Linked DNA regions of Homo sapiens: region 2 is linked to region 1. A link means that fine-mapping ties the variant in region 1 to the expression of a gene that starts in the linked region. Tissue or cell type: whole blood. Region 1 holds a variant in brackets; the other region holds the start of a gene. All regions are shown on one strand. Distances are between the middles of the regions. Region 1 holds the start of RASGRP3-AS1 (RASGRP3 antisense RNA 1). Region 2 holds the start of RASGRP3 (RAS guanyl releasing protein 3).

The links.
Region 2: RASGRP3 starts here. The variant in region 1 is fine-mapped to the expression of RASGRP3 in whole blood (TOPMed, PIP above 0.99).

What each region holds. Positions count from the first base shown.
Region 1 is chr2:33,557,743-33,571,186 of GRCh38, forward strand. RASGRP3 (RAS guanyl releasing protein 3) reads left to right here. Exons shown (of 18, transcript NM_001139488.2): 16 at 469-594; 17 at 930-1,288; 18 at 4,987-6,989. The coding sequence ends at 4,995. It overlaps RASGRP3-AS1 (RASGRP3 antisense RNA 1), which reads right to left and starts at 11,688. Exons shown (of 4, transcript NR_146505.1): 1 at 9,294-11,688; 2 at 7,491-7,523; 3 at 5,736-5,803. The variant A/G (reference allele first, on the strand shown) is at 5,296.
Region 2 is chr2:33,468,380-33,482,252 of GRCh38, forward strand. RASGRP3 (RAS guanyl releasing protein 3) reads left to right here and starts at 8,270. Exons shown (of 18, transcript NM_001139488.2): 1 at 8,270-8,328. RefSeq lists enhancers at 7,606-7,925, 11,386-11,555.

The sequences.
Region 1 (13,444 bases):
GTGGAGGAACACCTCACAGTAAATGATCAGAGGCAGTTGGCCTGGGAGAGACTAGAAGCTGAGGCTTCTTGCCCTAATGCTGGCATAGGCTCTCTTTGTGGGGATTCCGTCTAAGCCTGGGAAAGACTCTCAACCCCATTTGATTTGCATTTAGTTTTGGGCAAAGGCAACTGACCTCTCAGGCTGGACTCTATTTACTCCCTAGGCACAATTGCTCATTAGGTCCTCAATTGCATACAGAACCAAGCTGAGCAAATCTAAGAGAATTTTCGGAACCTCAGGAAGGCAAGTGCAGACCAATGGCCTCTTTCCAGATCCTAGACACACCCCATGGGCCTGAGCTCAACTCTGAAATTCAACACAGAAACTGGGGTGGGGGAGGGGAGGGCTGACAAATCAAGTGCCACCCTGGAAACTGAATCAACATCAGACACACTAATCATCTGCGACACCCTTGGAATTTTTCAGACTGTGGAGCCAATTGTCACAAACAGTGCAAAGACCTCCTGGTTCTGGCCTGCAGGAGATTTGCCCGGGCGCCCTCCTTGAGCAGTGGTCATGGGTCACTGCCTGGAAGCCCCTCGCTGCCCCCAGGTAATGCCCTCTGCTTTCTTTGCTGCCATGGTCTCTTTCTGCTTGCCTCCTCACACTTGGACCTCATTTAGGTTCTGGGTCTAAACCCGGTCAGTCACTCTAAACGCTAAGGCCTTCTTTAGGGTGAGCAGCAGTAGCTAAACCCTTGAATCATCCTTGCTTCTCTCTGCTTTCTAGTCTCAGGAATATGTAACTTGCCTGCGGCTAATTGAGTTCTGTCCCTTGTCGGTTCCTCTAGAATGTTGCATGCCAGACTCGTGCTGTTTGCACTAACCTTGATGCTTTGCTGTCAAGCAGTCAGATGTCAAATAATCACCACCCTTTTTCACTTCCAGCGCAGGATGAGGTGTTTGAGTTCCCTGGAGTCACTGCTGGACACAGGGATTTAGACAGCAGAGCCATCACACTGGTTACAGGCTCTTCTCGCAAGATCTCTGTGAGGCTACAGAGGGCCACCACCAGCCAGGCCACCCAGACTGAACCTGTCTGGTCAGAGGCTGGCTGGGGGGACTCGGGGTCCCACACCTTCCCTAAAATGAAATCCAAGTTCCATGACAAAGCAGCAAAGGACAAAGGCTTTGCCAAATGGGAAAATGAGAAGCCCAGGGTGCATGCTGGTGTGGATGTTGTAGACCGGGGCACGGAGTTTGAACTTGACCAGGATGAAGGAGAAGAGACCAGACAGGATGGTGAGGTAAGTGCTAGGTCAACCCACAAAGAAAACCAGAAGAAGGAGGCTGAAAGTGCTGAGATGAGCGTTACAGAGGGTCTGGGGGGCAGCCTGGTAGTTCTGAAAGCAGAATGGTTGGGAATGAAGACATGTATCACTTTTAGTCTTGCCACTGCCTAGCTATGTGACCCTGGACATATGTTTCTTCTTTATGGATCTCAGTATCATGATTTAAAAAAATTGAACGAGATCAAGTTCTGAAACCTATTGAAGGCTGTCATGTGTGCGTACTGAAATGATGCCCCAGAAACCCATGACTATATATCCAAAATACCAGTACACGATACAGATCAGCTTGGTTTTCCAAGCTAGAACCAGGGCCCAGACTCAAGAAAGGCAGTAGAAGCAAAAGACTTTTAGATAAAGGAGAATTGGAAACTTTTCATTCTGCTCAAAAGAAGCTTTTGACAGCATCATGGAAAAGGGGGTGGTGAGAATCAGAGATACGAGGCCCTTGAGGATCTCTAAACCAGGCTCTGCCTCCGCATGAGCAAAATCATGCAAAGCAAAGTAGGATGCAGATGGAATTTGTTAGAGTATGCTGACACAGAAATTGATTCAAGATGGAGTTAGATAAATTTATTAGTTAACAGTCTATAGTGTATTAAGAGAAAGGATTTGAGAAAATTGGCATGATATTCCTAACATTTAAAGCAATGTCATGGAGGACAGCCATTGCCACCCTGTCGAATTGTTCTCATAAACAGAATATTGGGTTAGGCAGAGATCCTACTGGATCAAGCCAGTGCTCTTTAGTCTTATGGGTGGTCCTCCACATTCCACTCTTCAGGAGACCTAAACACACGTCTCCATACATTTCCCATGATGAGAAAAACTCCAGTGACCTTTAGCCAGAAATTCCCCTAGTTCCTTCCTCACTGAAGGCAGTGCATAAGGAGGCCACCCATTATCTCTGGTCATACAAGGTTTATTGTAAGTTTCTGCTGAAACACTTTTTTTGTTTCTATAACATCCACTTTTAAAAACAGCTTTGAGATGTAATTCATATGCCATGAAACTGACCCATTTAAAAGTATGCAATTTAGTATACTTTCAGTATGCTTTTAGTATACTCACAAAGTTGTGCAACCATCACTACAATCTAATTTTAGAACATTTTCATTATTCCAAAAAGAAATCCTACACCCACGAGCAGTCATTCTCCCCCAACTCACCCCAGCCAACTAATTTATTTTCTGTCTCTATAGATTTGCAATGCCCACTTTATTTTTAACATTTCCCCCACTGATCATCTTGACAACTGTATCAGTCCTATCCCCCTACTTCTTTTACTGGCCTAGCACAGTTCAAGCTGGGAATATAAACGAGAATAAGAGAAAGATCATGATTAGGTGTCAACAGCTCTTAACCCGAGGTCTATTTAATGGCTTTAGGGTGTTCATGACAGTACTTTATACTCCGTGTAAAATATACATGGACATATGGTCACTTCTGGGAAGAGGAGTCCATGCATTAAACAAACAGATTCTCCTGGGGGGTATGTGATCCAAAAAAGCAAAGAATCATTGTGCAAGAAGATTTTCTGGATTCCCTGTCTAGTCACCCCATACACTAACTCAGCCTGCAGAGGCTGTTTCCGTGGGTGCTGTAGCTGCCCCTGGAATGTCAGAAAAAGAGCTTCTCCAGGTAGATGGTAGGACGCCTACCAGAGTGCTCAGGATGGCGCCCACCTTGTGGGCATCTCTGAATTCAGAGGAGAACCTGCTTTTGTTTAACAAATAGTGAAATTGGCCATGAGCTCATTACTATTGGCCTCTCACAGTTCAAGTTACTTAAAAACTGTGCTTCTGAGTTAGGAGAAATTCACAGCCTGTTGGGTGTAAGACAATCAAATAGGTAAGATATCCTGATCATTAATCTCTATAAGGAAATATAAACAAGTATCTGGGTTTTTAAAAAAATTTAATTTTGTTTCCTGGAAATTGAACTTTTATATTCAAATGCTCTCTTATCCTTTCTGTGTTCTTATCTCTTTTCTTTCTTTTTTTTTTTTCTTTGAGACGGAGTCTCACTCTGTCACCCAGGGTGGAGTGCAGTGGCACAATCTTAGCTCACTGCAACCTCTGCCTCCCAGGTTCAAGCGATTCTCCTGCCTCAGCCTCCCAAGTAGCTGGGACTGCAGGCATGTGCCACCATGCCCGGCTGATTTTTGCATTTTCAATAGAGACAGGGTTTCACCATGCTGGCCAGGCTGGTCCCAAACTCCTGACCTCAGGTATTCTACCTGCCTCAAACTCCCAAAGTGCTAGGATTACAGACGTAAGCCATCGCGCCCAGCTGTGTTTTTATCTCTTAAAGCACAGGGATGGTTCACTGACCACGAGTATTTAATTTCATCTGTGCTAATTAATGAAGGACGTATGCTCTTATATGAAATGCATATATATGGTATACAGTTCCAGTACCATTCAAATCAGTAACAAATGAGATGTTTGCTCTGTTTAGGGAATAAGGAAGAAGGGAAAAAAAATGACAAAATTATACCCAGCGGTTGAATATGTAGACAAAGGAGTTTGCAAATTTAAGATTTTTTTTTTTTCTGCCAGGCAAGACCAATAAATGGCATTAGGAGCACTGACCTACACATTTATTATTTAGTATCAGATGATGTTTGTGAGTCCTGTAGTTAAAGACTTTAGAACACAGAAAAGGTACGTGTGTTTGTAATCTGTGTATTTCCTCCAACGGAGTTCCAGGATTTACGCTCATTTTAAAATATAAGGGTACGAACATTTTCTGTGGCAGTGTATGTCATCTCCCCAATGACCACTACATGTCAGAACAGTTCAAGATTACTCTCTTGGCAGTAAGAATACATGTATTTCCTTTAAACTTCTTCTTTTGTTTTCCTTTATCTTCTACTAAATTAAATTTAGTCAACAAATACTTATCATAAAAGGGTTGGGAAATGCTGACTAAATAAAATGGAATATGTTTATGAATATATGTAATATACATAGTCATACATATGTACATATACATATGTAGATTTACAGATTTTCTCAGTGCCCTCTTGCACTAATTTACACTGTGGATTTCTAAGAGGGAAACCTTTTAACAAGGACCATTTCAAGGGACTAATGATTTGTGGTACACCCTTTAAGGTCAACATCCTAGTTGGACTCCATATTGGAGTCTTTAAGAGTTCATATGCTGGGTGAACTACATGATCTCTCTCTCTTTTTTTTTTTTTTTTTTCTGAGACAAGATCTCACTGTCCCCCTGGCAGGACTGCAGTGGTACAGTCATAGCTCACCACAGCCTCGAACTCCTGGGCTCAAGTGATCCTCCCATCTCAGCCTCCCAAGTAGCTGGGACTGCAGGCATATGCCACCATACCCAGCTGGTTTTTATTTATTTTTTTGTAGAGACGGGGTCTTGCTATATTTACCAGGCTGGTCTTGAACTCCTGGCCTCAAGTGATCCTCCCACCTCAGCCTCCCAAAGCTCTGGGATTATAGGTGTGAGCCACTGCACCCAGCTACCTACATGATCTCCTAATTCCCACTAAATCCTGAGACTACAAGGTACTGATCATTTCAGATGTTCCCTCAAAGTCATCTGAAAAACTGCTTTCTAGGAACACTCTTATTTTGTTATATGAGATCCAGCCATGCAATAGGTTCCAATTTGTGTTTCAGGATGGCTGACTTCAGGCTGCGGAAACTGAAGGCAATAATGTTGGCTTTTGGAAGGGGCAAGACGAGAAACTCTGAAGAAAGCTCTGACTCTCAGGAAGTTATCTGGAAAGATACCTGGATGTTTACTGCCTTGGGACACTGTGGGATCTCCATGTTTGGACTATGGGACAGAGAATTGACCCTAACTAACTAACTATGAACTATTTATTTCCTCCTCCCCTACCCCTAGTTAAGTGCCACAAAGACTGTGTTATGTAGTCAGTACTTTTTTCTCATGTATCTTTCTCTAGACCATTTATATACGGGTGA[A/G]ATGAAAGCTTTTTTGCATGTACTTGATACTCAGTCTGTAAACTCAGACTTCGCTTTTTTTGTGAGACTATCCTTTCAATATTTTTATAAACTTTTGTGTGTGCTGTGGCAGGGAACAGTTAACAAGGAGTTTATTTAGAGGGGTTTTTTTCATTTTTTGTTTTTCTTGTTTTGTTTTGTTTTGTTTTGTTCTTCTTGGTGTGCTTTTTGGATGGGACCAGAACTTAACATTTTCCTGAGGACTAGGAAGCTCATCAGACACTGGAATGCAGTGATTCTTCTAATGATGGTCAACTGCAAGGAGAAACTGTTTACATCCTTCCCACTACACAGTTGCTATGATATGTAACAAGTCACACATGTATATATCACACAAGTCTTACCAATTCTGCGTCACTAGGAAGCTATAGCATGGTCGTGAAAGCTCTCCTAATACTTACTTAAATAGCCATGGAAGAAAATTATGCTTGTCCCTTCTGACTGGGTTAAGCCATCTTTCTTAAGATTCCTGAAGTAGAAATAGCAATTAAGAAATTAATTCAAGTTTTGACGGTTAACATTTAGCAGAAAAACAAACCATTGAATAAGCTACTAGGTGAAATGCAAAACAACCATCAATTTTTTTAAACTCAATAATTTTGTGAAAAAAAAAACCACCACCAAACTTTTGGTTGTAAAAGAGAACCCTTGTTCCCTTCCTAAGAAACTGCCTTCCACAATTAAAGAATACTCATAGAAAGAAAATAATCATAAATCATATTTGATTAACATTTCATTTAAGCTTTTAAAATATCAATTTTTTAAATAGCTCCCATTTACCCAAAATAACTAGTTATGGGTCTATTTCTTCCATGATTAGAGGAGAGAGAACTTGATTCAAGATACTGAAAAATAGAGCTGGGACTGAGCCTGTGAATGACAGGAATGATCTATTACCAGGTGACTAGTCGGAAACTACACAGACGTGCACTGGTCTGCATTTGGGGGCTAAAGTGTATATATTCCATTTAAAATGGAATTTGTTTGTATTTGGGGCAGTCTTCAGTAAAGCCTTTCTCCTTTCTTTTCTCCATTGAGGACAGTTCTGCTCAGCAAAATTGTTGAGTACCTGTTCTGGGCAGGTCCCACGCTATATGCACAAAGTTAAGAAAAACTTGGTCTTAGCCCTTGGGAGCTGACAGCCCATGGGCATTAAGGCAAAGTAGTTCCAGTGATTTAAAATACGGTTCCAAATACGCTAAAACCAACTTGTGCCAACCAGATTTACAGATTGGAAATACTGCAGATGATGTGAAGTTATCAGTTGGAGGAGCTGTGATTAAGCTGGATAATAAGAGAACGTGCCATCTGTAAAGCACTCAGAAGGCAGCCATCCCTAGATGTTGGTTTCATGTATATTACACTATCTACTACTATCCATAAATGCAATAATATGCATGTTAACAACATTAAAAACAGCAAACAGCAATCTAAGTACAGAAAAGCTTTTTGTGTGTTTAAAAAAATTGAAGAAAATTCAGGAAGAAACGTGTTAATAAACATTGTACTGTTCTTTTGCTTCTCAAAGGAATTATTCACTTGCCACTTTGGTTATTTTTGAGTTTTCGTACATAGGAAGTTTTATATTGCCAGCCTTCCTGTGATAAAGATATTAAATGTAACTTGAGTAAAAAATAAAAAAGAATAACTATGTATATACATATATAAATTACATATGGGCCTGTATATTGTGTGTGTATATACACAGTAAGTCCTCATTTGTCCATAGATTCTTGGAAACTGCTACTTTAACAACTTGAAGTTGGTCTTGAAACAACTATAACAAGACCAACTTTTTTTCTCATCAACGTTGTAATGAAAGGAAATTGAATGAAATTACCTTGTGGAGGACCAGTTTGAACACTTCATTTGACTTAAAGTTGCTATTTCCAAGAATCTACAGACCATGTTAAGTGAGGACTTACTTACTGTATACACACACACACACACACACACACACGCACACCCCCCTATTATTACTTTGCTGAAGACTAATTTAAGTCTATAACAAAACTGCCTTATAATTATGATTATATCATTTACTGACAACCAGTGACTCTGATGTTTCCAATCTATCAATTTCCCATCATCAGTAAAATAAAATAGGCAAATCCACGATGGGGCAAAAAGAACAATCACAATTGACTCCTCCTCACCTTCATTTTGTAGGTCTGATGATCACTGTCACCCTGAAAATTGAAAGGAAAAACAAAAGTAAACTCTTCTTAACAATGAAAATGAGGTATGAAGGCAGGATTTATTAAATGCTTCAATTGCATCTTCATTGGAGCATCTACAAATTGACTGATGCTTTCTCAGACCTGCCTAAACCATAGGAGCCATGATTGGTTATTTGAACCCTTGTGTTGAGTGGATATCCCTTGAAGCAATAATGTGCCCAGATTTTCATGGTAAGTTTCTACAATGGACAGAGGAGTTTGCATTTTAAAAATGAAGGCAGGACTTCTGCAGAAGAGAACGTCAAACTGTTATTGATGGTAGGAAGCTTAATTATTCCTAAGATAAATATGTGAATTTTGCCAAAATATATAAAGCTCTAGAATGACTGAGGAGATCAATTCAGTGAAACTGTACCACAAAAGTGTACCTTTAGCACGCAATTCCCAACCAGACTGAAATCTCATCTTGGCTGCTTACAGTCATGGAATCCTGGGCAAGTCAGGTACATCTATTTGAGCCCTCAATTTCTTCATTTGAAAAAAAGAGATTTCACCACCCTCTTCAACTACCTCATAGAGTTTTGGTAAAGATCAAGTCAGATAATATATGTAAAAGTATTTGTAAAGACCTTATGTTATTATTATTTTGCAATTAAGCAGGATTCTTCTCTAAAACTGTCTCAAGAGCCCAGATTTTCTCTATATTATATGGCTGTATATTTGGAGGCTCTAAACCCAATATTTAACTAAATTTTCTGTTAAAAAAAGATGTATGGTGGCTCATGCCTGTAATCCCAGCACTTTGGGAGGCCGAGGCGGGTAGATCACAAGGTCAGGAGATGGAGATCATCCTGGCTAACACGGTGAAACCCCGTCTGTAATAAAATACAAAAAAAAATTAGCCAGGCATGGTGGTGCACACCTGTAGTCCCAGCTATTTGGGAGGCTGAGGCAGGAGAATGGCGTGAACCCAGGAGGCAGAGCTCGCAGTGAGCTGAGATGGCGCCACTGCACTACAGCCTGGGCAAAAGAGCAAGACTCTGTCAAAAAAAAAAAAAAAAAAAAAGATTAAACAGAAGTATTAATGAAAATAGTCAAAAGAGATTTTCTTATTTCTGGCACTATGTGTGTGTAGGATTAGTTCTGGTTTGATTGTAACACTGACTAGTCTTGTCCTGTTTGAAAACAGGCCTGCAAGATTAAGAAACCAAATGAGTAAAATGTAAATGAGGTTAGAGAAAAATCCATATATTGGGTATACATAAATGGGATAAAATATAAATATATTCAAAAGGTTGCCTCTTAAAAAGAATTTATTAGTTTACACAGGGAGACAGGAGGAAAACCAACATTACTTTTTAAAATAAAAAGCATTTACTTGATAACTGGAATGTATTTTACAACTATTGAAGGTGGGTAAGTATAGGAAACTACTTGGCATTTAAGGCTTAATCAGGAAATGGCTTCCTCCTGGCTGCATCCAAAACCTGCTGGCCTAAGTCTAGAGAGCACTCAGACCTCAAACAAAAATGATTACTTTATCTTGTCTTTCAAAAATGTTACTAGCATATCACGTTGGAATTCATACCCATTCAGAATCTAAGTGACATGCAGTTTATCCACAGGAGCATGAAGAAGGAATTACTTGGAGTATTCTACAAAGCAACTGGCCTGAACACTTCAAAAATAAAATATCACGAACAGAAAAAGGAGGGAAAGGGCAATTTTGGATCAGAAAAGATTGAATGAAACACAACAGTGAAATGCGATGTTACAAACCTTGATTGGATTCTGGGTCAAATTTTGAAGAAAGCAGTGGCTCACGCCTATGGTCCCAGTGATTTGAGAGGCTGAGGCAGGAAGACTACTTAAACACCGGAGTTCAAGGCTGCAGCGAGCTATGATTGTACCACTGCACTCCAGCCTGGGCAACAGAGCGACACACTGTCTGGATTAAAAAAAAAAAAAAAAGAAAAGGAAAGTAAAGCAGGTATTTGGGGGACAACTGGAAAGATTTAAATATGGAGTATAGGCCGGGTGCGGTGGCTCATGCCTGTAATCCCAGCACTTTGGGAGGCCAAGGTGGGTGGATCACTAGAGGCCAGGAGTTCAAGACCAGCCTGGTCAACATGGTGAAACCCCATCTCTAGTAAAAATACAAAAATTAGCTAGGCATGGCAGCACGCACTTGTAATCCCAGTTACTCAGGAGGCTGAGGCAGGAGAATCGCTTGAACCCAGGAGGCAGAGGTTGCAAGTGAGCCAAGATCACACCACTGCACCCCAGCCTAGAGTGAGGCTTTGCCTCAAAACACACATACACACACACCAGGCGGCAGCAAATATCTTACACACACACGCACACGCACACACACCCGGCGGCAGCAAATATCCCGCTCAGAGAGAAGGGCACACTCTGAAGTGCAAATCCTCAATCTTCATTTACAACAGAAGAAACAAGGATATATTAGCTGGTGGCAGGAGCTTCCCGGGCCTGTTTGGTTCTGAGAAGCAGGAGAGCCAGGGCACACTGACAAGAAATATTTGCTAGAAGCAATCTGTCTCTGTGACAGCAGAATGCCAGAGGCTCTTTATGATGAAAAAAAACAAAAAATCCCATAGTTGCCAGTGCCCAGCAAGATGTTAAGACTAATTGAACTCACACTCAAAACCTAGGATAATAGAAATTTCACCTGGCCTGAACTCTACTCTGGTTCCTTCCCTACAGGAACTTCCCACAGATTTTGAATAAAAGCTCAAAATTAAAACAGAGGTAAAACCAAAACCAAGGGGATATGAGAAGAAAAAAAAAAAGGACAGTTAAACAGATGTCAGAAAACTCACCAGAAAACAAAATTGCTACAGAGCATATGAAAATTGTTTTTCCAAGAATTAAAGCTACTTAATGAATTCCTGACTCACAGAAATCATGGTAATAATAAATGTTTATTGTTTTATGTTATTAGGTATTAGGGTATTTTGCTACACAGCACACATGAATATAATATCCTACAAGGCAATTAAACCATAATCTTTGAGGTTATCTTCTCTACTAGACAGAAATAATTTACACCTCTACCCGATAAAAAATCTGTTGTATCTTACCCATTTTCTGGAAGTTAGAAACTGAGCCCTAATCCATAGTAAATAGTAAATGAAACAAAAATACATTCCTGTAAAGAAGGTTCCTATATCTCTGTACTATTGACATTTGGGGCCAGAGAATTCTTTGTTGGGAAGTGGGAAGGGGGCTGTCCTGTGCGCTGTAGGGTATTTAACAGCGTCCCTGGCTTCTGCCTTCTAGATACCATTAGCACTTCCTTTATAACCAAAAATGTCTTCAGACATTTCCAAATGTCCCCTAAGTGACAAAATTGCTACTGGCTGAGAACCACTGTCCATGCATCAGAGTCACCTGAAGGTTTGTTAAAGCACACATTGCTGGGCCTCATTCACAGTTTCTGATTCGGTTGGTCTGGGGTGGGGCCTGAGAACTTGCATTTCTAAGTTCCCAGGTGATGCTGGCGCTGATGATGCTAGTTGGGTACTGAACTTGAGAACTGCTTCTAGAAAGACAGATGGCTCTCAAGCAGGCTTGTCAGACACTGCTGCAGAATGACACCCGAGGACATACAGCCATCTTCTGCCTTATTTCCAGGTTTTAGGTCCCTTCTTTTTTTTTGCAATTCTTTCTAAAGAAGTGTAAGGTGAAGGCAATTCTACATAGTTATAAAGGTCCACATTACAGCAAAATTTTAATTCTTCCTAAATATCAGAGTAAATGCAAAAAACCAAAGCAAAGAGACTCTATACGAAAGTTAAAAGTTATAAAAACAGAAAACAGAACTTATATATAAGAGAACTAAGTTCAAACATCTGTTATATAAATGGGCTAAACTCACTTTTTTTTAAAGGGTACTCAGACTGATAACACCACCACCAAAAAACCCCAATTCTATGCTGTGCACAAGAGACCTGCTGTAAAGTGATTCAGGTGGCTGAAAACTTTTTTAAATGGGCAAATATATACCAAACAAACGCAAGCAGAAAGAAAACATTGATCATAAATATAGTATCACACAAAATTAAATTCAAGGCAAAAGGCACAAAAAAAGACTGGGCGCGGTGGCTCACGCCTGTAATCCCAGCACTTTGGCAGGCCGAGGCAGGCGGATCACCTGAGGTCGGGAGTTTGAGATCAGCCTGACCAACATGGAGAAACCCCATCTCTACTAAAAATACAAAATTAGCCAGGCAAGGTGGCGCATGCCTGTAATCCTAGCTACTGGGGAGGCCGAGGCAGGAGAATCACTTGAACCTGGGAGGTGGAGGTTGTGGTGAACTGAGATCGCGCCATGGCATTCCAGCCTGGGCAACAAGAGCAAAATTCTGTCTCAAAAAAAAAAAAAAAAAAAAGGCACAAAAATAGACAAAAATGGACCCAGCGCGGTGGCTCACACCTGTAATCCCAGCACTTCGGGAGGCCAAGGCAGGTGGATCACGAGGTCAGGAGATCGAGACCATCCTGGCTAACACGGTGAAACCCCGTCTGCACTAAAAATACAAAAAAATTAGCCAGGCGTGGTGGCAGGTGCCTGTAGTCCCAGCTACTCGGGAGGCTGAGGCAGGAGAATGGCGTGAACCCGGGAGGCAGAGCTTGCAGTGAGCCGAGACTGCGCCACTGCACTCCAGCCTGGGCGACAGAGCGAGAAACTCCGTCTCAAAAAAAAAAAGGAGACAAAAGTAGGCCCATTTTAATGCTAATGGATACAGATCACAATCAAAATATAATTATGAATATCTTTGTACCAAATTATAGAGCATCATCATTTACAGAACAAAAAGAATAGATGATTCAAAGATACACAGAAATATATTAGTGGTATAAAATATGTATTATCCTCTCACTCAGCTCATGATATAACCAAGTACCAAGTACACAAAAAATAAGGCGCTTAGACCTGTGCCATTCAACACGGTAACCACTAGGTACATGTGGCTAACGAGCACTTGAAATATGACTAGTCCAAATTGACAGGTGCCATAAGTACAAAATATGCCAGATTTCAAATAGCACAAAACAAAGAAGGTAAATAAGTTGTTAATAATTTTTTCTATTGATATATGTAAAATAATGGTTTTTATATAATGGGTTAAATAAAATTTCACTTTTAAAAAACTTCCTTAACACAGTTACTTTAAACTTGAAATTGAATGTGTGGCCTGTATTATATTTCAATTAAGACAGTGATGCTGCTCTAGAACTAATTAACAAGGTAGATCTAAATACTTACAACAGCTAAAACATATATAGTATTTATTCCATTCCAGACACTGTTCAAGATATTTTGCACATATTAATGCATTGAGTCCTCTCAACACCCTAAGAGGTAGATGCTATTATTATAGCCATTAGCCATTTTACGGATGAAGAAACTGAGGCACAGAGAAATGAAGTAATTTGCATAAGATCACAGTAGTGAATCTGACGTTTGGTTCTCATCAATCTGGCTCCAGAGTCTGTACTCTAAACCATGATGCTACAATTGATAAATGTGCATAGTGAACTCTGTCCTTTGAAAACAAAGATACATCTCCTGTTCCATCTTCAGTAAGACAGCCACAAAAATTGACCACAGATTAGGCCACAAGAGAAATATCAAGTTTCAATCCTGCGAAATAATACAGAGGAAATTATGCTGTAATGCCATAAAATTAGAACTTGAGAGCAAAACTAGAAAAATGAAGTAGCTAAAGTTCAGAAATGAAAACAAAACAACACAAAACCTACCTCTTCTAAAGAACTCTTGAATAAGAGAGGAAATCAAAGTCTAGCAAATGATCATGAAAATACAGATCAGAATAACTACAAGATTCAGCCTCAGCACTACTCAGAGAAAAAGTTTTAGTCTTAAATACGTTCATAGACAA
Region 2 (13,873 bases), 89 kb before region 1:
TTTCCATGTTACTAATATGCTTCAACATTTTTTTTTTTTTGAGACGGAGTCTCGCTCTGTTGCCCAGGCTGGAGTGCAGTGGCATGATCTCGGCTCACTGCAACCTCTGCTTCCGAGGTTCAAGCGATTCTCCTGCCTCAGCCTCCTGAGTAGCTGGGACTACAGGTGCACACCACCATGCCGGGATAATTTTTGTATTTTTAGTACAGACAGGGTTTCACCATGTGGGCCAGGATGGTCTTGATCTCCTGACCTCGTGATCCACCTGCCTCGGCCTCCCAAAGTGCTGGGATTACAGGTGTGAACCACTGTACCCAGCCACTTCAACATTATTTTATAATTGCATAGTGCCATATCTTATGAATATGTTCTAATTTATTCAACTACTTTTGGCACCTAGATGTTTTTCTAATATTTTCTTAGTATAAGTAATGCTGCGTGAAATATCCTTATACATATGCAATCCATATTCTTTTCTTAGGATATATTTCTAGAACAGGAACTGCTGAGTTAAAGGGTATTCACATTTTAAAAAGCTTTTGACATACATTACAAAATTATCTTCCTCCTATGTTGTACGATTTATATTCTTTCTGGTAGAGTATGAAGGTGCCATTTTCCAAACCTCCTGCCAACACTGAGAATTTTCGTTTTTTCATCTTTGTCAAGTTTATAGATAATAAATTGTATCTTATCGTTGTTTAATGTATACTCCTTTTTTAGGGAAGCTGACTTTTTCATGTGTAGATTGGTCATTTATGTTTCTTCCCTTGTGAACTATTTATTAATATCCAGTTGTTAATTGTAAATGCTATTTATATGTTAAGACCATTAACCCTTTACCATACGTATTTCACTTTTGAATCTCATTTTATTATTTGTAGGTTAATTTTGATTACCGTTGGATTATATTTTACATATATGTTTTATATTTTATGGTTTAAATCGTGAACTTTTATCTTTATAGCTCCTTCTGTTGTGACTGTGATTGAAACGTTTTCAGGACAAAAGTATTTAATCATGATTAAAACAATTTTAAGATTATAAAACCAATCATGTGATTCTCTTCAAGTTTGTATGTGATTTTTTTTTTTTTTTTGACATGGAGTCTCATTCTGTTACCCAGGCTGAGTGCAGTGGCGCGATCTTGACTCACTGCAACCTCCACCTCCTGGGCTCAAGTGATTCTCCTGCCTCAGCCTCCCTAGTAGCTGAGACTACAGATATGGGCCACCATGCCCAGCTAATTTTTTATATTTTTGGTAGAGAAGGGGTTTCACCATGTTGCCCAGGCTGGTCTCAAACTCCTGACCTTAGATGATCTGCCCACCTCGGCCTCCCAAAGTGCTGGGTTTACAGGCATGAGCCACCGTGCTGCTGTACAGCGTTTTTATGTTTAACTCTTTAGTCTAACATGCTTTTACTTTGTGTATGGCATGAAGTAATGATTGCATCTTAATTTTTCCGAATAGTTAATGATTTAACCTGTTTTTGAATAGTTTATTCTTTTCCCACTGGGTTTAAAAACCATATTGAACAAATACAATAAACATTTTACTGTAGTTCTTCTATGTGTATTTCTGGGCTTTTGGCTCTGTTCCATTGCTCTAGTTCTTTTGGCACTAGTACCAAACTTTAAATTCACGTTATTTTTAGCCTATTTAGTACCTAATATCTCCCTTGTGGTTCTTTTCTAAAATTTTCTTTACCATTCTCAGTTTTTTATTCTTTAAAATAAACTTGAGGATTTTTGACCTGTTTGAAAAATTTATTTGGGATTTTAAGCAAAATTTGATTATATTTATAAATTAATTTGAGGGAGAATTAATATATTTACAATGTTAAGTTTTCCAGTACAGAAAAACTTTCCAATACAGAAATGTATCAAACTGTTTTTAATTTTCTCAGTAAAGTTACATTTTTAAATAGGTTATTCACTTTTTTTATTCCTAGAAATGTTATTGTTGTTGTTGCTATTATAAATAATACTATAACTAAGAATTTTTTTTTTTTTTTTTGAGATGGAGTCTCACTCTGTTGCCCAGGCTGGAGTGCAGTGGCGCGATCTCAGCTCACTGCAAGCTCCGCCTGACGGGTTCACGCCATTTTCCTGCCTCAGCCTCCCGAGTAGCTGGGACTACAGGCGCCCGCCACCATGCCCGGCTAATTTTTTGTATTTTTAGTAGAGACAGGGTTTCACCGTGTTAGCCAGGATAGTCTCGATCTCCTGACCTTGTGATCCACCCTCCTCGGCCTCCCAAAGTGCTGGGATTATGGGTGTGAGCCACCACGCCCGGCCAAGAATTATTTTCTATTATGTTTTCTAAGTTTTTGTGGGTTATATGGAAAATTTCATATATTTCTGTATAATTGTTCCGTGGCCAGAACAATTAATTTTGTATACTTATTTTGTATATTTATTTGTAACTGTTCACCTCACTTTTTAATTATTTAGAAGCAAATTTTAGTTTGTTCTATTGAGAAAATGAATATTACTCAATCTGCAGGTTGAATACTTTTGTCTCCATTTTTCTCATAAAATTCTTCTTTAGTTTCTTTTTCTTGCCTGGTTGCAGTGGCTCAAATGTCTAGAACAGTGTTAAATGGATGGTAGTGATAATGAGCATGCTTTTCTTGTTTCTGATTTTAACATTAATACTTCCAGTATTTTACCATTAAGTATGATGCCTATGTTTGATTTGAGATTTGAATTAACATGAGTATCATGTTAAGAATCAGTCTTTTAATTTTGTTTTATTAATTAAAAAATTGATATTGAATTTTATCAAATGATTTTTCAAGATTATTGTGGCAATCCAAAAGTTTTTCTCTGTTGCCCAGTCTGGAGTGCAGTGGTGTGATCATACCTTACTGCAGCTTTGATCCCCTAGGCTCAAGTGATCCTCCTGCCTCATCCTCCCAGGTTGGTAGGACTATAGGCATCTGCCATCACACTGGGCTATTTTTTTTTTTTTTTTTTTTTGTAGAGATGGAGTCTCGCTATGTTGCCCCTGCTGATCTCAAACTCCTGGCTTCAGGTGATCCTGCCACCTTGGCCTCCCAAAGCACTGGGGTTACAGGGGTGAGCCACTATTCCCAGCCTTATTTTTTACATCTTTAGGGCAACCTATGTTTACGTATGAAGTTAGTCTGTGGTTTTCTTTATTATGCTTTATCAGTTTTTTTTTTTAAGACAGGGTATTATGTTAGCTTTCTGTTACTTTTGTCCACTTGAACACTTCATATACCATGGGAGTTAATTCTGCTTGAAGCTCAGTTAGAACTTGATTGTGTAAGTAATCTGAACTAAGAGCTTTTTTTGGAAATAATTCCTTATTAACTTTTACATTTTTCCATGGTTACTGATCTGTTGTTTTTTGACTTCTTCCTGGGTCAGTTTGCTTCTAATTATTATTTTGGCTATGTCTCCCAATATTTGATATGTGGTATTCTCATCACTGAAACCTTCTAAGCATTCATTCTGTAATTGTGTTTTTAATTTATTCTCCAATCAATGATTTTTTTTTTTAAGAACTCTAAAGTTTCCCCAAGAGCGTGGGGTCTTTTTGACTTACACTTTTGTAATTAATGTATAGTTTTATTACAGTGTGATCACAGAATATGGCCAATTTCTTTTGGAAAGAAATTACTTACAATTTTTTTTTGGTAGCCTAATATAAAATCAAGTTTTGCAAACTTTTCTTATATTTTTTTCTTAATGGGCTAGACAGAAGATCCTTCTCTTTAATTATTCATTTATTCATCGAGGATTGTTTCCACCATGTGTCTCATACATGCCAGGCATTGTATTAGGCATTGCAGGATATAAAATAAGTCATAAGCTTTGTCTTAGATTGGTAAAGTTTGGATGGAACACAGACACATGTAGACCTAATTATAATACAGAAAGAAATGCAACCGCAGCGAAATGTACAAAAGCAGCAGGCAGCTAGAGTGGGAGTGAAGCCCTGAAGGTTCTGGGAATACAAAGTTGCCTACGATGGCCCGGAGGGGCTTTCAGTCCTAGCGTGTAAAACATACATTGAGATCAGAGACAGGCTTTTTGGAGGCAAGGTGATTAATTAGGAAATCACCGCAGACCTTCAGTAATAAATCAGAACATATGAGGGGCGGTAAGAGTGCAAGATGAGAAGAGAGGATTTTCACACCTAAGGGGCAGATAGCGGAAGAGAAGCCCAGACCTGAGGATGAAGGAGGTAGTAGTAAAATTTTATAGACGCCATGGGAGAGCTTTTCAAGGGGTGGTTGGTCAGTTGGGACAAATAGAGCCAAAAGGTCAAGTAAGATGGCTCACGCCTGTAATCCCAGCACTTTGGGAGGCTGAGGCGGGCAGATCACGAGGTCAGGTGTTCGGGACCATCCTGGCCAACATGGTGAAACCCCGTCTCTACTAAAAACATGAAAATTGCCGGGCGCGGTGGGTCACGCCTATAATCCCAGCACTTTGGTGACAGAGCAAGACTCCGTCTCAAAAAAAAAAAAAAAAAAGCAAAAAGTGTCGGTTGCCTTTGGTCTTTGGGGACTTGGAAAGAGCAGTTTCAGTGAAGTGAGGGAAAAAAAGCCAAGCCACAAGTAGGTTGAGAGTAAATGGGATGTGAGATGGTGAAGACAAGTATTTTTTCAGGAGTTTAGTTGTGGAGGGAATGCAGGAGTTAGGGCAGTAATTAAAAGAGCAAGTCTGGCTGGGGGCAGTGGCTCACGCCTGTAATCCCAGCACTTTGGGAGGCCAAGGTGGGCAGATCATGAGGTCAGGAGATGGAGACCATCCTGGCTAACATGGTGAAACCCCATGTTACTACTAAAAATACATGTCTCTACTAAAAATACAAAAAATTAGCTGGGCGTGGTGGCGGGTGCCTATAGTCCCAGCTACTCAGGAGGCTGAGGCAGGAGAATGGCTTGAACCTGGGAGACGGAGCTTGCAGTGAGCCGAGATCGCGCCACCACACTCCAGCCTGGGCAACACAGTGAGACTCCGTCTCAAAAAAAAAAGCAAAAAATCAGAAAGACTGTTGTTAGGATATAAAGACAATGTGAGAACGTGAGCATGTTTAGCTAATGAGCGCACGCTGAGAGCAAGAGAAGGCGTGGTTGTTGTCGAGAGTCCTAAGCAGGTGGGAGACACAGGGTGAGACACAAAGCCGAGGTAGGAGGTGGCCTCTTGACAGGAAGAGGGCACCTCTTCTTGAGTCGAAGACAATGCTTGGAACTGGTAGGGAGTGTGGGCAGAAAGATGGGATCTCCCCCATTTCTTTGCAAGGCTGTGTTATTGTAGAACCTTTAGTCACACTCCTGGACTCTGACTGAAAGGGTCCTGGGTCTTGGCCTCTGTGTTAACAGTTTGCTTCATAGGGAGGATTGAGGATCCATCCCTTCCTCTCCTGGCTATAGAACTAGAAAAGAACCTCTACACCAGTGGTCCCTAATGTATTTGGCACCAGGGACCAGTTTCATGGAAGACAATTTTTCCATGGACCGGGAATGAGGGGATGGAGATGATTTCAGGATGAAACTGTTCCACCTCAGATCATCAGGCATTAGACTCTCATAAGGAGCATGCAGTGTAGATCCCTCGCGTGCACAGTTCACAATAGTGTTCATGCTCCTATGGGAATCTAATGCCACAGCTGATCTGACAGGAGGCAGAGCTCAGATGGTCATGCTCCCTTGACTGCTGCTCACCTCCTGCTGTGCAGCCTGGCCTCTAACAGACCATGGACAGGTACCTGTCCATGGCATGGGGGCTGGGGACTCCTGCTTTACACTTATGATGTAGTTTGGATGTTGTGCCCACCCAAATCTCATGTTGAGATGTAATTTCCAGTGTTGGAGGTGGAGCCTGGTGGGAAGTGATTGGATCTTAGGGGCAGATTTCTCATTAATGGTTTGGTACCATCCTGTTAGTGCTGTTCTCATGATAGTGAGTGAGTTCTTTTATTTATTTGTTTATTTTAAGACAGAGTCTCACTCTGTTGCCCAGGCTGGAGTGCAGTGCAGTGGTGCGGTCTTGATCTTGGCTCACTGCAACCTCTGCCTCCCAGGTTCAAGCACACCACCACGCCCGGCTAATTTTTGTATTTTTAGTAGAGACAGGGTTTTGCCATGTTGGCCAGGCTGGTCTCAAACTCCTGACCTCAGGTGATTCACCCTCCTCAGCCTCCCAAAGTGCTGGGATTATAGGCATGAGCCACAACACCCAGCTGATAGTGAGTTCTGGCAAGCGCTGGTCATTTAGAAGTGCCCCCTGTCTGTCTTGCTGCTGCTCTGGCCATGTGACTCATCTGCTCCCACTTTGCCTTCCACCATGATTGTAAGTTTCACGAGGCCTCCCCAGAAGCCGAACAGATGCCAGTATCATGCTTCCTCCATAGCCTGCAGAACCATGAACCAATTAAACCTCTTTTCTTTATAAATTACCCAGTCTCAAGTATTTATAGCAATGCAAGAATGGACTAATACAACTTAACTTTCCTGAGGCTGTTGTCGCTGTTGGGCATTGAAGAGTTTCTAGAAGTCCCTGTTTCTTTATGTGGCATGCAATGGATCATCAGAATAATTAACCCAGTCAATGGTAAACAAAGTGATGGATGGATGCCATCAGATCACAAAAGTTTCTATTACTGTAAATACAAGGGGGTAAGTAAATCAAAATAATGTTTCAAATCCTCAGTAGGCCTCTTTTTCTGTTTCTAATTGAAGATTGTCACATCAACACATAAACAAAAATGCCTGTGAGGGAAATGTGTATTTTATGCATTGCATTTTTATATCTGAAGTTTATTTCTATTACTAACTTGAAATGCTGAGGAAGGGATTTGTTTTGGTGCTTACAAAATTCTCCCATTTGCTCTTCGGACTCTCACAAGTTGACAACAAATTACTGCCCTGATAGTATGGTGAGACTGAGGGTTTTTTGTCTTTTTCTCTTATTCTAGAAAACACTGTATCCTCTATATGGAGGGAAATTTCTGGTTTGATTAACACTGTAAATAATTATGAGACAAAGCCTAAATATAAAAGATTACTCACACAGGCTCTTACACTGAGTAAGATATTATGTGTTAAAAATCAGGGTTAATAGTTTAACAGGCACATTATGGTTCAGAAATCCCCTGGGGGACTTCAACCATCTTTTCTGGATGTTCACTTTGCCAAATAGGCTGCCTCTATGTCATATCTCTACCTGAAGGGCAGGCTCAGACACTGATTCGGGGAAGTGTCACCCTTACTATACCAAGAAGTCAGACATCCAAGGTCAGACACTACGTAAAGTCAGATACTTCAAGGGCTTTCCTTGGAAGGGAGGATGAAAAGGGAAGGGTGGGAACATCAGCTCAGGTGAGACATATGAATTCAACAAAACATCAGGGATGGTTTGCCACGTTTGCGAGCAGCACAGAAAACGGCAGTTTGCTCCAAGTTCCCAGCACACCAAAGGGGGCAGTAGTGCGTCTGTAAAGCGCGTTGTCAACTTGGTGATAATTTCTGTTTGCATTCACACTCGCCGGCTGATAATCTCAGCTGCTCGATGCAATTCAACAGATAACAATGCGGAAGTTTGGTCTAAAGCTACCTGAAATCACTTCCAAGAGCTCTTCAGATAAAGCTGCCTTTGATAGTCTTCATTAACCCCTCCCATATTTGCCCCTCAGCGTCCCTTGGCTTAGCAGCCCCGGCCTTTGAAGTCCAACCTAAGCATTCTTAGATGGTGAGTGAGGGTCTGCCTTCCCCAGCACCAGCCACCTAGTCAGGCTTGTGGCTCGTCTAACAAACTGGAGCCTGAGATTCTGAGAAAACGAAACCAAACAGTTGTACTCCGGGGTTAACACAGAGCAACTTCCACCTGCTGTGCGAGTTGGTGATCCTCTCTCTTGCCGTTCGAGAGCCCCAGTGAAACTTGAGTGAGATGAGAGAGCATGGAGCCTGCCAGTCTCCCCCTCTGCGCACACACACACGCAAACACATTTAACTTTCCACTTGCAGTGACCTGCCCTTCAGTGTGACTTATCAGCTGTTTGGCTTTTGTCACTAAAGGAAAACAAATTGTGGAATATCCCGCTCTGCATGCTCATGAGATGGCTGAGCCAACTCAGGGGTTATGAGGTGGTTTGCGAGTGAGGAGAAGAATGATCTTCAGTTTCTGACCTCCTGGCACGGTGGCGGGCGGTATTTATCAGGAGGTACATGTGACTGGTTAAGACTCAGAGCCCCAGCTTGAAGGAAACAGCTGCTCTCGGCGTGCTCCGGCACTTGGCAGCTGGACAGGCAGAGTGCTGATGTGAAAAATACCACGACAAAACCACCCTAGTAAGTAACTGGAGAACTTTCCTCTCTCTCTCTCTCTTTCATTCCCTCTCCGTGTGTGTGTGTGTGTGTGTGTGTGTGTGTGTGTGTGTTGCAAGCCACCAACAACTTTTGATTTTGATTTTGGTTTCCCTCTGGCACGATAGAAGGAGATATTTTATTTGTACCTGTTAACAGCCATTGGTGTTTTCACAGCCCTTTTTTAGAACCTGTTATTTTCGGCAACGTGTCTTGTAACTTTGAGGATGAATGGGGCATATGGCTTCATTCCTGTCTAGGAAACAGAAAGTTTGTTTCCCAGTGTTCAAGATTTTTCTAGTCCATGGTGTTTAGGTTCAAAGTCAAGTTCAGGTTATGAAGTAGAGACTTCATTGAAGTGAGTTGATGACTAGATTTGATTTTAATCTGTTTCTACCACTGAAACCTGAAAACGTAGTTGTTTAAAGTAACTTGTGAATTTATTGTATGGCTGATTTGATTTTTCCTATTCAATTTTTGAGAATATCTCATTTAACTGTGTAGAACTGTCTGCAATATAGAAGACTGACAAAATAATATTTAGATTCACATTAGAAATCATATTTAGATTTCTTGCATGGTTTCCAACTAATTGAAAGCTGTATTTTATAGCGACTTTTTTTCCCCCCAACAAGCTAATTCACCTTCATTACTTTAAAATGTTCAGTTGCCCCTGGTCTTCCTTCACCTTCATTACTTTAAAATGTTCGGTTGCCGCTGGTCTTCCTTATTTTAGTGTTTTCGTGATACTCAGGCTGTTTTTTCCTTGTTTATGACCTGACTGGGAAAGTGCTGCCTGCAGCTGATGATTAACTCTGGGAGGCCTGGCATCCAAATTACGGAGAGAACCGGCTCCTTCTCAGGTTCATTCAGCAGTAATGGTGCTTGCGCTTGGGCGAGCAGCAAAGCAGGCACCATGCTGGAACTGAGCTGTTGTTCGGTGACTTTTGTCCTTCCTTGGTAGTCACCAGACAGAATGCTTCAGAGGAAAGGCAAAAGGGGAAAAGAGAGAGGGCAGAGCTCTAAACTGATGACGTAAAGCTCTGAAAGTGACAGGTCTTTGAATCAGAGGCTGCAGGGAGATAACCAAACAGGTTCCTGTTTCTGGAGATCGCGTGGATCTTGAGGAGGGTGGGCAGAGAGGGGCTGTTTTTATTTGAAGTCTCACCAAATAGTTGTTTTGCTTGTGATAAGCCTAGGACAACCTGGAGTGCGCTTGTTTCCTCGTGTGACAAATGGATTCTCATACAGGCTCAAGCTATACGGTTTTCTTTCGCCCTCTGCCCCCTGCCATGAGGGAACACTGTTCTCTCCCCACCCTTACCATCCTTTGTTGTTTGTGGAGAATGGATTAAAAATGACCCAGGGCACGGCACTTCTGCGATCGAGTTTCCCTCAGCACAGTGGGTCTTGAGTACCGCACCAACCAATGTTCTCTGATGGAAGCAGTTTCGGATGCCCTGTCTAAACAAATGGCTAGTCTGACATTGAGAAGTTCTCCACCTTCTTTTCCTTCAAATGTAGAAGAATCCACAAAATGTAGAGTGGCCAATGAGGAAAAATAGTCCCAACTTCTCTGTTCCTCGGTATGGCATTTGTGTGAGGTCCTTGGGTCAGCCCGCGGCCATGTGGTCTGTGACTTCCCTGTCTGACTGCTGGGGGAGGGGGTTCCTCCTGAGTCATTCTTTAGGGAGTTTGTTCCTGGTATAGTTTCAGATTTTCCACAGGTTGATAGTGGAAGAGAACCCTCTGGTGAAATTGTGTCTCCGGAATCATCGAGCCTCCCATAATAAAATGGAATGTCTAAATGGGAGCAGTTGAATTATCCAACTGCTGTATTTTTGAGAGCCAACAGGCTCCTTTGAAAAACCCATGCCTTTTCAAAATATTAATAGCAAAATAATAAAAAATAATGATTTTACTTGCAGATAGTACATCCATTGACTCAAAGACTTTTTGACCTGGATAGGAATGATAGAATGTGCGATTTAACTCTTTCGTATCAAAGATGAGGAAACTGTAGCAAATTTATCGGAGTTACGGTGCAGAGCCAGAAGAGAGAGCTCAAGGCTTCCATCATAATTTCAACGCTAATAACAATCCCTTACTTTTATTGTGCACTTACTCTGCCAAATGATGCGCTAAACAAGTGTATTTATTTTCATAGTCTCCTCACAATAACTCTATGTGTTACATATTATTATTCCAGTTCTATAGATAGGAAACTGAGGTTCTTGACCATACGTAACACAGACAGGAGGGACACCCTTAGTTACTTGACCATATGTAACACAGACAGGAGGGACACCTGGATCTGACTGTAGAACCTGTATACATTAAAAAATAAAAGTGGAATCCCACACATTTAAATGTAAAAACTCACAACATGCAAATGAGAGTATTTCCAGCACAATATGATTACACACACAATGTGTGTTATGCCCTTTTCGAGCTCTCCATGACAGGAAGGGCTAGGTTTCCCCCTGTGACAGTCCAAGCCCAAGCTCTCTCTATAGGATCGCTGGCTGGTGGCATGTTTTTCTCTTTGAAAATAGTTCAGTGACGGTCTTGATGTTGGTAAGAACAGCAACCGGGAACTTTGTTATTAACCTCCAGCACACGGCTCCCATGCCCCTTCTGGCCTTTCCCTCCAGTTTTCCTGTCACTCCTTTCCTTTGGAGGACAGCCACTCCACCCATGCCCCACCCCAAATAGCTGGCTTAGTGTTGATAAAGCTATTATCAGACCCATCCCCTTTGCTCAGCCTGGAAGGTTGGTTGTCCGAGTAGGTTGTTGATGAATAGAAACCATGCACTCTGCCACTCTGCGCTGTTTTTTTGAGCTGTGGGTGTAAGGGGTGGGTCACGGGGCAGGGGACTAGCTGGCAGTGGTGAGGGAGGAGAGGTATGCTTTTCTTCACTGCCTGCACCTGCCATTTACCCTGAGTCCTACTTCTCCACACACCAGTTGCATATCTAAAGCTCTGACTGTCTCACGGGTGGGCCATAAACCTGTGGATTTTCTGGGTCATCAGACTTGCAGAGCCCTTAAGAAACCTGCCTCCTGAATCCTTTTAAAAATGTCATTTGGCTGTCCACATTCCTCCACTTTAGGTTAAGTGTCAAAATTAGGGTTGGAGATAATGGGAAAGAGCACCAGGTAGTATGTAATCAACAGGGAACCTTTTATTAATCAGGAGGAAAATCAAGCAAGTATGCCATGTGTGGATGTTTCTGAGGAAGTTATCAGTGTTTCTGCAAGGTCGTTCTGGCAAGATTACACATTTTGAAGATCAAGCTATTTATAGCATGAAAGAGGAATTTTTTTTTTTTTTTTTTTTGAGACAGTCTCGCTCTGTCGCCCAGGCTGGAGTGCAGTGGTGAGATCTCGGCTCACTGCAAGCTCCGCCTCCAGGATTCACACCATTCTCCTGCCTCAGCCTCCTGAGTAGCTGGGACTACAGGCGCCCGCCACCATGCCCGGCTAATTTTTTTGTATTTTTAGTAGAGACGGGGTTTCACTGTGTTAGCCAGGATGCTCTCGATCTCCTGACCTGGTGATCCACCCGCCTCGGCCTCCCAAAGTGCTGGGATTACAGGCGTGAGCCACTGCGCCCAGCCCGCATGAAAGAAGAATTTTTAATCTTTAATTCCACCTGCCTGCTGCCTCTAAAACTAAGCCCAACTCAGTAGTAGTCAGTGATGTGGTTTGCTAGACCAAAACCACTGGGAATTGCCTCCAATCCTTGCTAGGAATTGCTCACTTCTGTAGAAATTGGCTTTGTACAGGGGGTGTTATATGGGTACACGTGAAGTGGACTCAGAATCACGACAGAGTCCACAAGTCATACTCTGGAGCTGATTTGAAAGAAAATAAAATGCTTGATTCGTTTTGGGGTCCTTTTACAATAAGGAAACACATTCTGGGATACAATGCCTATTTTGTTTCTTTGTTTTTGCCCAATTGTGTGTTTCAAAGACATCTGCTTCCAAAAAGTTAACTTTCCTGGATCCTCCTTTCCCTTGGTATTGATTGCTCACTTATAGTCCCTGGAGTTAACAGCTCCTGTGTCATGTTTCCACTGCTCTATGGGATTTGAAGTCTTTGGATTTTTTTGCTGTTTCAAGTGATTATTATAGCTTCAGAGTCTGTGGTGTGCAGAGTCGCTGTGCTTTGATCTTTGAGCTCATCTTTGGTATTGAGAAGTCGAACCCCTGCATTTATATATGCCGGCATAAGGCACTTTCTTGTACCTTGCCATAATCCCATGAAAGAGGGAGGGTATCATCACCATTGTTTTCAAAGAGGAAATAGAGGACGAGAGAAAATGAGTGACTTGTCTATGGTCATGGGAAAAGTAACTGTCAGAGCTCAACTATATCTCTTGTCTACTGACTCCAAGTGCCAGGCTTTTTCTGTTGGTTATGCTATCTTTCTTTTGTTTTGTTTTTGTTTTTCAGATGGAGTTTCACTCTGTCGCCCAGGCTGGAGTGCAGTGGCACGATCTCGGCTCACTGCAAGCTCCGCCTCCCGGGTTCACACCATTCTTCTGCCTCAGCCTCCCGAGTAGCTGGGACTACAGGTGCCCACCACCACGCCTGGCTAATTTTTTTGTATTTTTAATAGAGACGGGGTTTCATCATGTTAGCAGGATGGTCTCGATCTCCTGACCTGGTGATCCACCCACCTCGGCCTCCCAAAGTGCTGGGATTACAGGCATGAGCCACTGCGCCTGGCCTAGTTATGCTATCTTTCAAAGAAAGACCAATTTCAACTATTTCATGACCATGCACTTACACAATCTGTGGAATTATCTTTGGTGATAAAAAGTTGTGTAATTTGTATTCTCTTCAGATAGGCAAAGAGTGACTGGATAACCGATTTGCGACATGCCACTCATGATATTTCCAAAGCCTATGGACATTTGACTTTGGAAACAGGGTCAGCTTAGTCTTCAGACACCGTATTTGCTTAGGATAATTTTGTTTGTTTGTTTTTTCAGACAGAGTCCCACTCTGTCACCCAAGCTGGAGTGCAGTGGCACAATCTTGGCTCACTGCAACCTCTGCCTCCCAGGTTCAAGCGATTCTCTTGCCTCAGCCTCCTGAGTAGCTGGGACTACAGGCGTGCACCACCACACCCAGCTAATTTTTGTGTTTTTAGTAGAGATGGGTTTTCACCATGTTGGCCAGGCTGGTCTCGAACTCCTGACCTCAGGTGATCCACCCACCTTGGCTTCCCAAAGTGCTGGGATTATAGGCATGAGCCACTGTGCCTGGCTAGCTTAGGGTAATATTTTTTTTTTTTTTGAGATGGAGTCTCGCTTTGTCGCCCAGGCTGGAGTGCAGTGGCACAATCTCGGCTCACTGCAAGCTCCGCCTCCCAGGTTCATGCCATTCTCCTGCCTCAGCCTCCCGAGTAGCTGGGACTATAGGCGCCCGCCACCATGCCGGGCTAATTTTTTTGTATTTTTAGTAGAGACAGGGTTTCACTGTGTTAGCCAGGATGGTCTCGATTTCCTGACCTCGTG